Homo sapiens: one gene and its partners. The protein of the gene in region 2 purifies or fractionates together with the protein of the main gene of each other region. This does not show direct contact. Each region holds a gene or a part of one and is shown on either strand. Other genes may lie near its edges.

Region 1 (3,340 bases), on a different chromosome or scaffold from region 2:
TTTTCAAGGCAGAAAAAAATAGGTCCAGGATCTTTGACAATGGCAAGATAAAGACGGTAAACTTAGATGTCCTGCAGGACTGCTCAACCAATGATACTGCTCTGAGATAAGTTGACATCCATAATCACAGAATTGGCCCCAGTCTTTCTCTGTCATGAAACTTGGCCCTCCCCAGACAATGAAAACATAAATATCACATCTGTGACAACTCTAGCATTTCTAGCAGGAAAAACAAATCCTGAAAAAGCATCAAATGCAGTGAATCTGACCACACAATGGTAAAATAGTTATTTCAATAAAGATTTTCATTTCAAAAAATGAATTTTTTTGTTGTTTCCACAATAATCAATTTAGTTATTGACAATGCAGGTCAGGCCTCATTCATGGCCATAACATAATCTCTGATCTTTCCAGTCCCTACAACACTACAAATTTTCACAGGATTATACATAGAATTCTAAAGCAAAATAATCCTAGAAAATATAAGTGGAAATAAAAATATATAATCAAATCAGATACACTTTTTTCATACACAATAAATCATTAGCATTTTTTCTTATAAAGGACAGGCTCACTGTAGAGTAGTATGCAGAAAAATATAATAAATAAAATAGATATCACAAATAATGTCATCTAATTTTTTTTCAGATCTTCTATGGTGTTTATATATACAATACTGTTGGTTTTATATTGTATACAGATCTGTTTCCTGTTATTACCACTTGATGTTATTATTGTGATACTTTCTTGGTATCATTAAACATTAGTAAACATTTTCTATCATGTTAGATACCATATTTTATTTAGACATTCCCCTGTTTTCAGGAATTTAGGCAATCATTTCTATTTTAAATCATGCTTTAATAAGCCTTTTAAGCATTTTTTTATTTTGGTCTAAACTTGGGGTCATTTGTGAGGATAAATTCACAGAAGAAGAAATTTTTAAGGCCTTTGATAGATGTTCCAAGACTGCTTTCCAGAATGTTTGTGGTGATTTATAGATGTCCTAAGAATATTTGAGGATATCTATGTCATGTACCTGCACTAACATAATTACTGTGTTTTAAAAATACTTTGGTTTTATTGTATCTTAAATAATTAATCAATAATTCTAAGGAAGCCTTATATCATAGGTGAGAAGGTTTGTTTGAAATTGGCAAGGAGCAAGGTACATGAGGGAGTTTGCATTGTCCACAGCCTTAAAGGTTCACTTCACACAGTAAATACTACAAAATTATCTGTCTTGGATTGTTTAGACATTCAATTGCTTGAATGTCCAGGGACAAACCACTTGATCTCTTCTAAGTATTTCATGTTAGGGTTTTTAGAAATAGCTTTTAACACAATTTTGATTGAAATAATTTTTCAGAAAGCCCATTTCACTTGTTAAGGCATTTCATCTTTAGCTGAATTTTAAGTATGCTATGAGATAAACCAGGAACAAGGAGACTTGATTCTCTATACCATATTTTATCGATTCTAAGACACACATTTTTCACATCTAAGCGTCTTTAGTATTTGGATGTATAATAGGCACTGCTAGCACTTTCAGATCCCTCTACCACTCTCATGCATGACAGCTCCCTGTGCTTTCACTCTCAACATTCAGCACCTGCACCTCTTTGTTGGACGGCTGTCCTCAGGCTACAGGAACATGCTTTGACTGCATTGCAGGCTGGAAGCACCTGGAAATTTACACCCACCCCCACCCCCACCCCCATTCAATAACTGATGGTGCAGAGGTATAAATACTCTGGGTTCTCTGGCCTCTGACTTGAACCTACTGTAGAACCTTTTTGTCTCTAGGGCTCTCCCGTGGGAGTGAACCAAAGTCATCTCCAGAATAGGCTTTGCTTGACATCACACTTTTTGTGGGTTTTTTTCCCCCTTTCCTTTGGATCGGTTCTATTTCTCTATTTCCCTATTACTTTTCACCCTTGGGCCACTTCCTAATTCACATAAATCCTTATGTCAGAGGAATTAAACATATTACAGGAAGTGTCTTACAATAATTGATGTCCTGCAGTTACTGTCAGCCAGGTGGTCATAGTGATATGGTTGTCTTTGCCTGTGCATGCATGAATTTGGTTGTTCTTTCCATGATATGACTGGACTGTTACTTCTTTACTTTTTGGTCAATAAACCATTTAAGGACTATTGAGAAGAGTATGAATCCTGATTGTTATCTAAAATTTTTCTATTAAGTCCTTTTGCCAAGATAAAAAATGTGCCAGCATCAGAGTTGTAGAATGGATGTCTAAGACAGGGAAAAAAATCTCAGAGACTGCAGTAGAATATTCCTTTAAGAAATGTTATTTATCCTGATGGCAGAGAGGGTGTTACCGTGAAAAATTGTGGTTTATGACAACTCTGATTCAAAAAAGAGATGCAGAAAGAGTTCAATTCTGAATGTACAGAGCTTTGTAAATATCATAATTAATATTTCATTCTCTTTTACACACATGATTTTTAAAAATCTATGCTGAAACAGTTCTCTTGTATTTACTTAAAGGCGTATAAGATAAAAATTCTAACTACTAAGTCATATTTTAAATCTTTTTTTCATTTTCAGTTACACACAAAATAATGATGGGTCTTATAACTGATGAAATACTAATTGGGAATATGGTACTTATAGAGACAGAAGAAATACAATCAATGAACAGTCTTAATTGGAAAAACTAAGGTAACTTCATAGACTTCTCACTTTCCATTTGTAGAGAGAGTTCTACTGGTAAATGAGGAACCACCAGTATTTGGTCATATTTTTGAAATTGTGTAGATTTTATTAAATATTTCTTATTCCTCCAATACGTGTGTGTGTGTGTGTGTGTGGTGTGTATATACACACAGATATATATATATACACACACACACACACACATATACTAAGTGTATGTGTGTGTATGTATGCATTCTATTTCCTTCAAATTTCCCTTATATCGAGTACTTTTATCAGAGAAGTAATCCATGCATTTAATTTGGTGCCAACTTCTTATTTTTGTGTGGTAATCACCAAAGAAAAATAAAAGCTGGCATTAGATTAAATGCATAGATTACTTCTCTGAATGATAAAACTGCCTAAAGAAATAGAATCTGCTCATAAACATCTTTTCATATTCCATTCCACAGAAATTTCTGACCTTACCTGTCTATATTACCTATTCCTATAAGGTAACTTTATTATCTACTCAATTTGTTTTGTCTTCCTGTTGTCTCTTCTCGTGTGTGCTGATGAAAGATGAATTTCTCCACTGTGAAACAGAACAGTCAAGCAATTCCAGTGGGGTTACTTATAGATGAGATAATTTCTGCAATTTCAGAGTTCTGTGGCAATACA
Region 2 (3,656 bases):
TACTCACCCTATGCTGCCTCTCACTATGCTAATAGTAACAACGGAAGTATAAGATAGTGAATAAATTTCACAGCATTCTGTGCCTGTCATTCAGGCCAGTAGGATAGCTCCTTTGCAGAATCTTTTCCCGTCTTTTATTCTTTTTATGATTGCCTCTTAACCAAAAAACTTTAATCAAAACTTAATTTTAGTAGTGGGGTTATCCTCACAAAGTCACTCCCGTCATTGTTATAGGCATACTGTGTTGGCGGCTGATTAATTCAGAATGCGTTGTTTAATGAGGCTTCATGGTACTGATGGCCTCCTTAGCTCCAGATACACAACTGGTAAATACACATTCCTTGTGCCTATTAATTGAGGCTTTGTGACTGGGTTACTGCAAACATAACCTTTCTATGGCCAATGAAATACCCAGTTCAGAAACAGTCTTCTTGATGAGATAGCATCATTTTTATTTATTTATTTATATATTTTAAAGATAGGGTCTCACTGTGTCACTCAGGCTGGAGTACAATAGTGCAATCGTAGCTCACTGCAGCCTCAAACTCCTGGGCTCAGGTGATCTTCCCACCTCAGCCTCCTCAGTAGCTAGGACTACAGGTGTGTGCCACCACTCCCAGCTAATTTTTAATTTTTTCAGATTTTTTGTAGTGACAGAGTCTCACCATGTTGCCTAGGCCAGTCTCAAACTCCTGGCCTCAAGGGATCTTGCTGCCTTGGCCTCCCAGAGCACTGGGATTACAAGCATGAGCCACTGTGCCCAGCCGGTAGTGTCATTTTAAAAATGAAGGATGAAACTTTTCAGTGTATTTTCCTTAAGTAGTTGATATAATGAAACGTGAATAAGCTTTAAAGTCAGACCTGCATTTGAATCCTAGTTCACGGATTAATTTGGCTTAACTTGATCAAGTTACTTTACGTAACCTGCCTGAGTAGGAAGAATAATGCTTTCCTGCCTGAGAAGTTCTGAGGATTCAATAAAACAATGTGCATAAAGCTCCTGAGAGCCTGATACGTAGGAAGTAGGAAAAATGTCGAATCCACCCCTTGCTAGTTTTTTTGAAATAAGGCGAGGGTCTCCCCCACAAGTGACTGTTTGCAAGGGTATCACTTGTTCTTCCTCTTTCAGTGGCTCCTTCATCCGAGTTGAACACATTGGGACCTAGAGTGTTGGCTTAGCTTCCCACTTCCCCGGTAGTGTGCTTAGGTGATGGGCTTCCCTATTGTTTTCCGTCTAGCTATCACTCCAGCCAGATGCTCTGGGGCTTAGGGATGATACTTCACTTTCCCTCCGTTTCCTAAATGCCAGTTATTTTGAGGTTGCCTGGTAAAACTACTACACTACACTGGGCACGGTGGCTCACGCCTGTAATCCCAACACTTTGGGAGGCCAAGGTGGGTGGATCACGAGGTCAGGAGATCGAGACCATCCTGGCTAACACAGTGAAACCCCGTCTCTACTAAAAATACAAAAAATTAGCCAGGCGTGGTGGCAGGCGCCTGTAGTCCCAGCTACTGGGGAGGTTGAGGCAGGAGAATGGCGTGAACCCGGGAGGCGGAGCTTGCAGTGAGCCGAGATCACGCCACTGCACTCCAGCCTGGGAGACAGAGTGAGACTCGTCTCAAAAATACCCAAACTACTAGACTGGTAAACTGCTAAAGGAATGGTCTTTCTGGCATTGCTCTGTCTCCCTAGACCGCCTTGGCCATGCAGTGTACTGTCTCCCTAGACTGCCTTGGCCATGCAGTCTACTGCTGAGCTTGCAGCTCAGGTACATGTACTGCTCAGTGCTCCTGGCACCGTGATCCAGGTACAGTCAGAATTCAAGGAGTAAGATCCGTTTTAGCATCTCCAAACTAAGCTTATTCCACTGACCAAAACCTGCCCCTCCTCTGATCTCTGTTAATAGCATTTTCCACTCACTCAACATGCCAGAGCGTCAGAGTGACATTTGACATTTCGCTCTTCTCTATTTCCCATATGTAAGCAGTCACCAGGGTCTAAAATTCTGTTCCTAATTTTTCTTTTGAAGCCTTCTTTTTCTCTCCATTTCCAAATATAATGGCTTATAGTACTAAAAAATCTAGGGTGACTGGGAAGTGAGGAGCCACTCTGCCCGGCCAGCCGCCCTGTCCCGGAGGGAGGTGGGGGGGTCAGCCCCCCGCCCGGCCAGCCGCCCCATCCGGGAGGGAGGTGGGGGGGTCAGCCCCCCGCCCGGCCAGTCGCCCCATCCGGGAAGTGAGGGGCGCCTCTGCCCGGCTGCCCCTACTGGGAAGTGAGGAGCCCCTCTGCCCGGCCAGCCGCCCCGTCCGGGAGGGAGGTGGGGGGGTCAGGCCCCGCCCGGCCAGCCGCCCCATCCGGGAGGTGAGGGGCGCCTCTGCCCGGTCGCGCCTACTGGGAAGTGAGGAGCCCCTCTGCCCAGCCACCACCCCGTCTGGGAGGTGTACCCAACAGCTCATTGAGAACGGGCCATGATGACAATGGCGGTTTTGTAGAATAGAAACGGGGGAAAGGTGGGGAAAAGATTGAGAAATCGGATGGTTGCCGTGTCTGTGTGGAAAGAGGTAGACATGGGAGACTTTTCATTTTGTTCTGTACTAAGAAAAATTCTTCTGCCTTGGGATCCTGTTGATCGGTGACGTTACCCCCAACCCTGTGCTCTCTGAAACATGTGCTGTATCCACTCAGGGTTGAATGGATTGAGGGTGGTGCAAGATGTGCTTTGTTAAACAGATGCTTGAAGGCAGCATGCTCCTTAAGAGTCATCACCACTCCCTAATCTCAAGTACCCAGGGACACAAACACTGCGGAAGGCCGCAGGGTCCTCTGCCTAGGAAAACCGGAGACCTTTGTTCACTTGTTTATCTGCTGACCTTCCCTCCACTATTGTCCTGTGACCCTGCCAAATCCCCCTCTGCGAGAAACACCCAAGAATGATCAATAAAAACAAAAACAAAAACAAAAAACCTCTAGTTAACACATAATAATGCCCGCACTGAGCAGATGTTCACTAAGGTGTTGAATAAATAGTTGAAACTGTAAAAAAAAAAAAAAAAAAAAAAAAAAAAAAGATGCTTTTAAAATATGAAAAAAAAAGATATTTTAATGAGAAAAGCTGAGTGTTGGGAGAGAAGCTGATGCAGGGCTTGCATGTCTGCTAGACTTGCTGGCTCCTTGCTTCTAGCACTCCCATTATCTCAAGCAGCCATATGTTTCTCATTCACTTGATACACTGTTTCCTTTCAACCCCCACATCCTCACCACCTGTTTCTTTGTTTGATCATCAATAAATGGTGTGGGCTCCCAGAGCTCCGGGCCTTGGCACAGCATCCACACTCGTGATGGCCCCCTGGTCCCACTTTCTCTCTCAAAAAAAAAAAAAAAAAATCTAGGGTGTACTGTTGCTTCAGAAATGCCCAAATATGGGTGTTCAAATTAAGAATTTGTCTCTGTCTCTGGGCTCTGCTTCCAGATGTGTTGTTTTCATTCTCAGGTAGACTATTCTACAGGTTACCATAGCAACTCCAAGCTTAGCAATACCAGCAACAAGAAAGATGCAGTCCCAGCAGCTCCAGCAAAAGCAAAAATCCCGGGGCTGACTCTTTTTGGACTGACTTGAGTTATGTTTCTGTTCTTGTGGTCGGGGTATGGGCTA
Region 3 (3,656 bases), on a different chromosome or scaffold from region 2:
GTAGTCCTGGTCCCTAAGCCCTTCCAGCCCAGGAGCCAGACCTGTGAGCAAACAAGCCTTTAGTGATTCCAGGCTCTGGCTGGAACCTTGAGTCTTCTCAGCTTGGGGCATGCACCTCAGGGGGAGCCAGCATCAGTGTCCAGCCCCAAGAGCTTCCCTGTACGTCTCAGTGAGTCTTCACATGCCTCCAACTGCCTGGACAACCACACGTGATACCTGTCCTGCCAAACGTGTCCTGAACCCATAAAATCCAGAGAAAAGAAAATCGTTTTAAACTGCTGAGGTTTGGGGTAAGTTACTATGAAGCAGTAGTGAGAAGAACAGAAGGGCCATGATGGGGAGAAAGTTTGGCCATAAGTTAATCACTGTGGCAGCTGTTAGGATATTGATGTGGCTTGGCTGTGTCCTCACCCAAATCTCATTTTGAATTCCCACATGTGGGAGGAACTGGGTGGGAGGTGATTGAATTATGGGGGCAGGTCTTTCCTGTGCTGTTTTCGTGATAGTGAATGAGTGTCACGAGATCCGATGGTTTTAAAAACGGGAGTTTCCTGCATAAGCTCTCTCTCTGCCTGCTGCCATCCATGTAAGATGTGACTCGCTCCTCCCTACCTTCCGCCGTGATTGTGAGGCGTCCCCAGCCATGTGGAACTGTAAGTCCATTAAACCTTCTTCCTGTGTAAATTATTCAGTCTCTGGTATGTCTTTATTAGCAGCATGAAAACGGACTAATACAGATAGATGTATTATACTGTTACCCCTACTACTTCTGTATATGCTTAAATTTTTGCATTACAAAATTCACAAACATACAAACATTATAGAGAACTAACATCACAGATTTACAGTCACCTTATTCCACAATGTTGGAAATTCTACCACAAATAAAGAACTTGAAAAAAAAGGAGGGGATGTTAGAAGGAAATCTGAGCGACCTAGACCTGGGCTCAGTCACGCCTGAGACAGTCAGATGGGGTATCTGAGGATGAGTCAGTGTTAATTTTCTCAGACCTGGGCTCCGTCACTCCTGAGACAGTCAGATTGGGTATTTGAGGATGAGTCCGTGTTAATTTTCTTAGATGTGGGAATGCTATTATAGTTACGCTAAAACACAATCCCTATCTAATAAATACACTGCAACATTTATGGGTAAAATCATATGTCTGAAATTCCTTAAAGATACTCAGAATGCCAGGCATGGTGGCTCATGCTGTCATCCCAGCACTTTGGGAGGCCGAGACGGGTGGATCACTTGAGGTCAGGAGTTCGAGACCAGCATGGCCAACATGGTGAAACCCTGTCTCTACAAAAAATACAAAAAAATTAGCTGGGTGTGGTGGTGCACACCTGTAATTCCAACTACTTTGGAGGCTGAAGCAAGAGAATAGCTGGAACCCAGGAAGCAGAGGTTGCAGTGAGCCACGATCATCCCACTGCACTCCAGCCTGGGCAATGGAGTGAGACTCCATCTCAAAAAAAAAAAAGATACTCAGGAAAAAAACGAAGAAAGAACAAGATAACAAAATACTGATTGAAGCTGAGTGCTCTATAGGTGCAGGTGCTCATTCACTATTCTATTTTCTTGTGTGTTTGAACACTTTTTTTTTTTTTTGAAATGGAGTTTCCTTCTTGTTGCCCAGGCTGGAGTGCAATGGCATGATCTCGGGTCTCAACTCACTGTAGCCTCCGCCTCCCAAGTTCAAGTGATTCTCCTGCCTCAGCCTCCCAAGTAGCTGGGATTACAGGCGCCCGCCATGACGCCCAGCTAATTTTTTTTGTATTTTTAGTAGAGATGAGGTTTCGCCACGTTGGCTAGGCTGGCCTCAAACTCCTGGCTTCAGCTGATCCACCCGCCTCGGCCTCCCAAAGTGCTGAGATCACAGGCGTGAGCCACCGCACCTGGCCTCCCAGAGCGCTGGGATCACAGGCGTGAGCCACCACGCCCAGCCTGTTTGAACACTTTTGTGACGTTTTGTTGTTTGTTTGTTTTGAGATGGAGTCTTGCTCTGTTGCCCAGGCTGGAGTGCAGTGGCACAATCTTGGCTCATTGTGACTTCCGCCTCCCGGGTTCAAGCAATTCTTCTGCCTCAGCCTCCCGAGTAGCTGAGACTACAGGTGTGCGCCACCATGCCTGGGTAATTTTTGTATTTTTAGTAGAGACGGGGTTTCACCATGTTGGTCAGGCTGGTCTCAAACTCCTGACTTTGTGAACCACCCGCCTCAGCCTCCCAAAGTGCCAGTGTTACAGGTGTGAGCCACCACGCCCGGCCTGTAACATTTTCATGAAGGTAGAGTATACTTAATTGCAAGAAAATTTTGAAAAAGAAGAGAAATGGAACACTTCTATTGGCTATTAAAAAATACCATGCTGAGTGAAAAAAGCCAATCCCAGAAGGTCACATGCTGTATGATTCCATTTCTTTTTTTTTTTTTTTTAGGCTGGAGTGCAAATGGCACGATCTTGGCTCACTGCAACCTTGGTCTCCCGGGTTCAAGCAATTCTACCTCGGCCTCCGGAGTAGCTGGGACTACAGGCATGCGCCACCATGCCCAGCTAATCTTTGTATTTTTAGTAGCGATGGGGTTTCTCCATGTTGGTCAGGCTGGTCTCAAACTCCCGACCTCAGGTGATCCGCTTGCCTCAAACTCCCGATCTCAGGTGATCCGCTTGCCTCGGCCTCCTGAAATGCTAGGATTACAGGCGTGAGCCACCATACCCGGCCGTGATTCCATTTCTGTAACATTCTCTGAATGACAAAATTATAGACAGGGAGGACAGATTGTTGATTGCTAGGGCCTTGGCGTTGGGGTAGGGAGTGAGGGGGTCTGTGAAGGGCAGGGCTTTGGGGTTGGGGTAGGGAGTGGGTGTGTCTGAAGGGCAGCAGGAGGAAGATGGGATTGTTGGTTTTGGTGGTGATTGATTAAATGGCGTAGCTGTACATACACTCATAGTACCGGAGTCCATTTCCTCGTGTCGATAATGGTACTATAGTTATATAAAACGTTCGCTTTGGGAGCCAAGCACAGTGGCTCACGCCTGTAATTTCAGAACTTTGGGAAGCCTAGGCAGGCAGATCACTTGAGCCCAGAAGTTCAAGACCAGCCTGGGCAACATGGTGAAACCTGATTTTTACAAAAAAGACAAGAATTAGCTGGGTGTAGTGGAGTGTGCCTGTAGCCCCAACTAATCAGGGGCCTGAGATAGGAGGATCCCTTGACCCCATGAGGTTGGGGCTGCAGTGAGCCAAGATCGTGCCACTGCCCTCCAGCCCCGGCGACAGAGTAAGACCCTATTTATGCTTCCTAGCAAGGAAAGACAGTACACATATTGAAGAATTTGACTGCGTTAAAATGTTAAACCTCTCCCCAAACTCTTATAAACAATTGTAGAACAAATGATAAGCTCAAAAAAATATTTACATCTATGAGAGGCCAAAGAATATCAGTTGACTCTGGATCAGGGGCTCGGACACGTTGCTGTGGAGGCACACATCTTCCTGGAAGGCGGTTTGGTAACAAGGTGGCAGGACTCAAGACAGCCCACACGATCCCTGCCCCTGGGAAACAGCCATGTGTAACCCTCCCCTCGAGTGTGGGTGGAATGAGGAAGAGGGAGGTGTGTCTCTCCTGCGATTAGCTCACTCATCCATTGAGTT

What was found.
Region 1: the proteins of RUBCN (region 2) and STXBP4 purify together in Homo sapiens (affinity purification with mass spectrometry; one large-scale study listed by BioGRID and IntAct). This does not show direct contact.
Region 3: the proteins of RUBCN (region 2) and SPATA33 purify together in Homo sapiens (affinity purification with mass spectrometry; one large-scale study listed by BioGRID and IntAct). This does not show direct contact.

The regions. Positions count from the first base shown.
Region 1 is NC_000017.11:55,167,742-55,171,081, reverse strand, and holds part of STXBP4 (syntaxin-binding protein 4), read right to left. Parts: 3' UTR 1-3,340. UniProt on the Homo sapiens protein: Plays a role in the translocation of transport vesicles from the cytoplasm to the plasma membrane. Inhibits the translocation of SLC2A4 from intracellular vesicles to the plasma membrane by STX4A binding and preventing the interaction between STX4A and VAMP2.
Region 2 is NC_000003.12:197,730,301-197,733,956, reverse strand, and holds part of RUBCN (run domain Beclin-1-interacting and cysteine-rich domain-containing protein), read left to right. Parts: intron 1-3,656.
Region 3 is NC_000016.10:89,660,822-89,664,477, forward strand, and holds part of SPATA33 (spermatogenesis-associated protein 33), read left to right. Parts: exon of another isoform or gene 1-687; intron 688-3,656. UniProt on the Homo sapiens protein: Plays an important role in sperm motility and male fertility. Required for sperm midpiece flexibility and for the localization of sperm calcineurin to the mitochondria. Promotes mitophagy as well as acts as an autophagy mediator in male germline cells.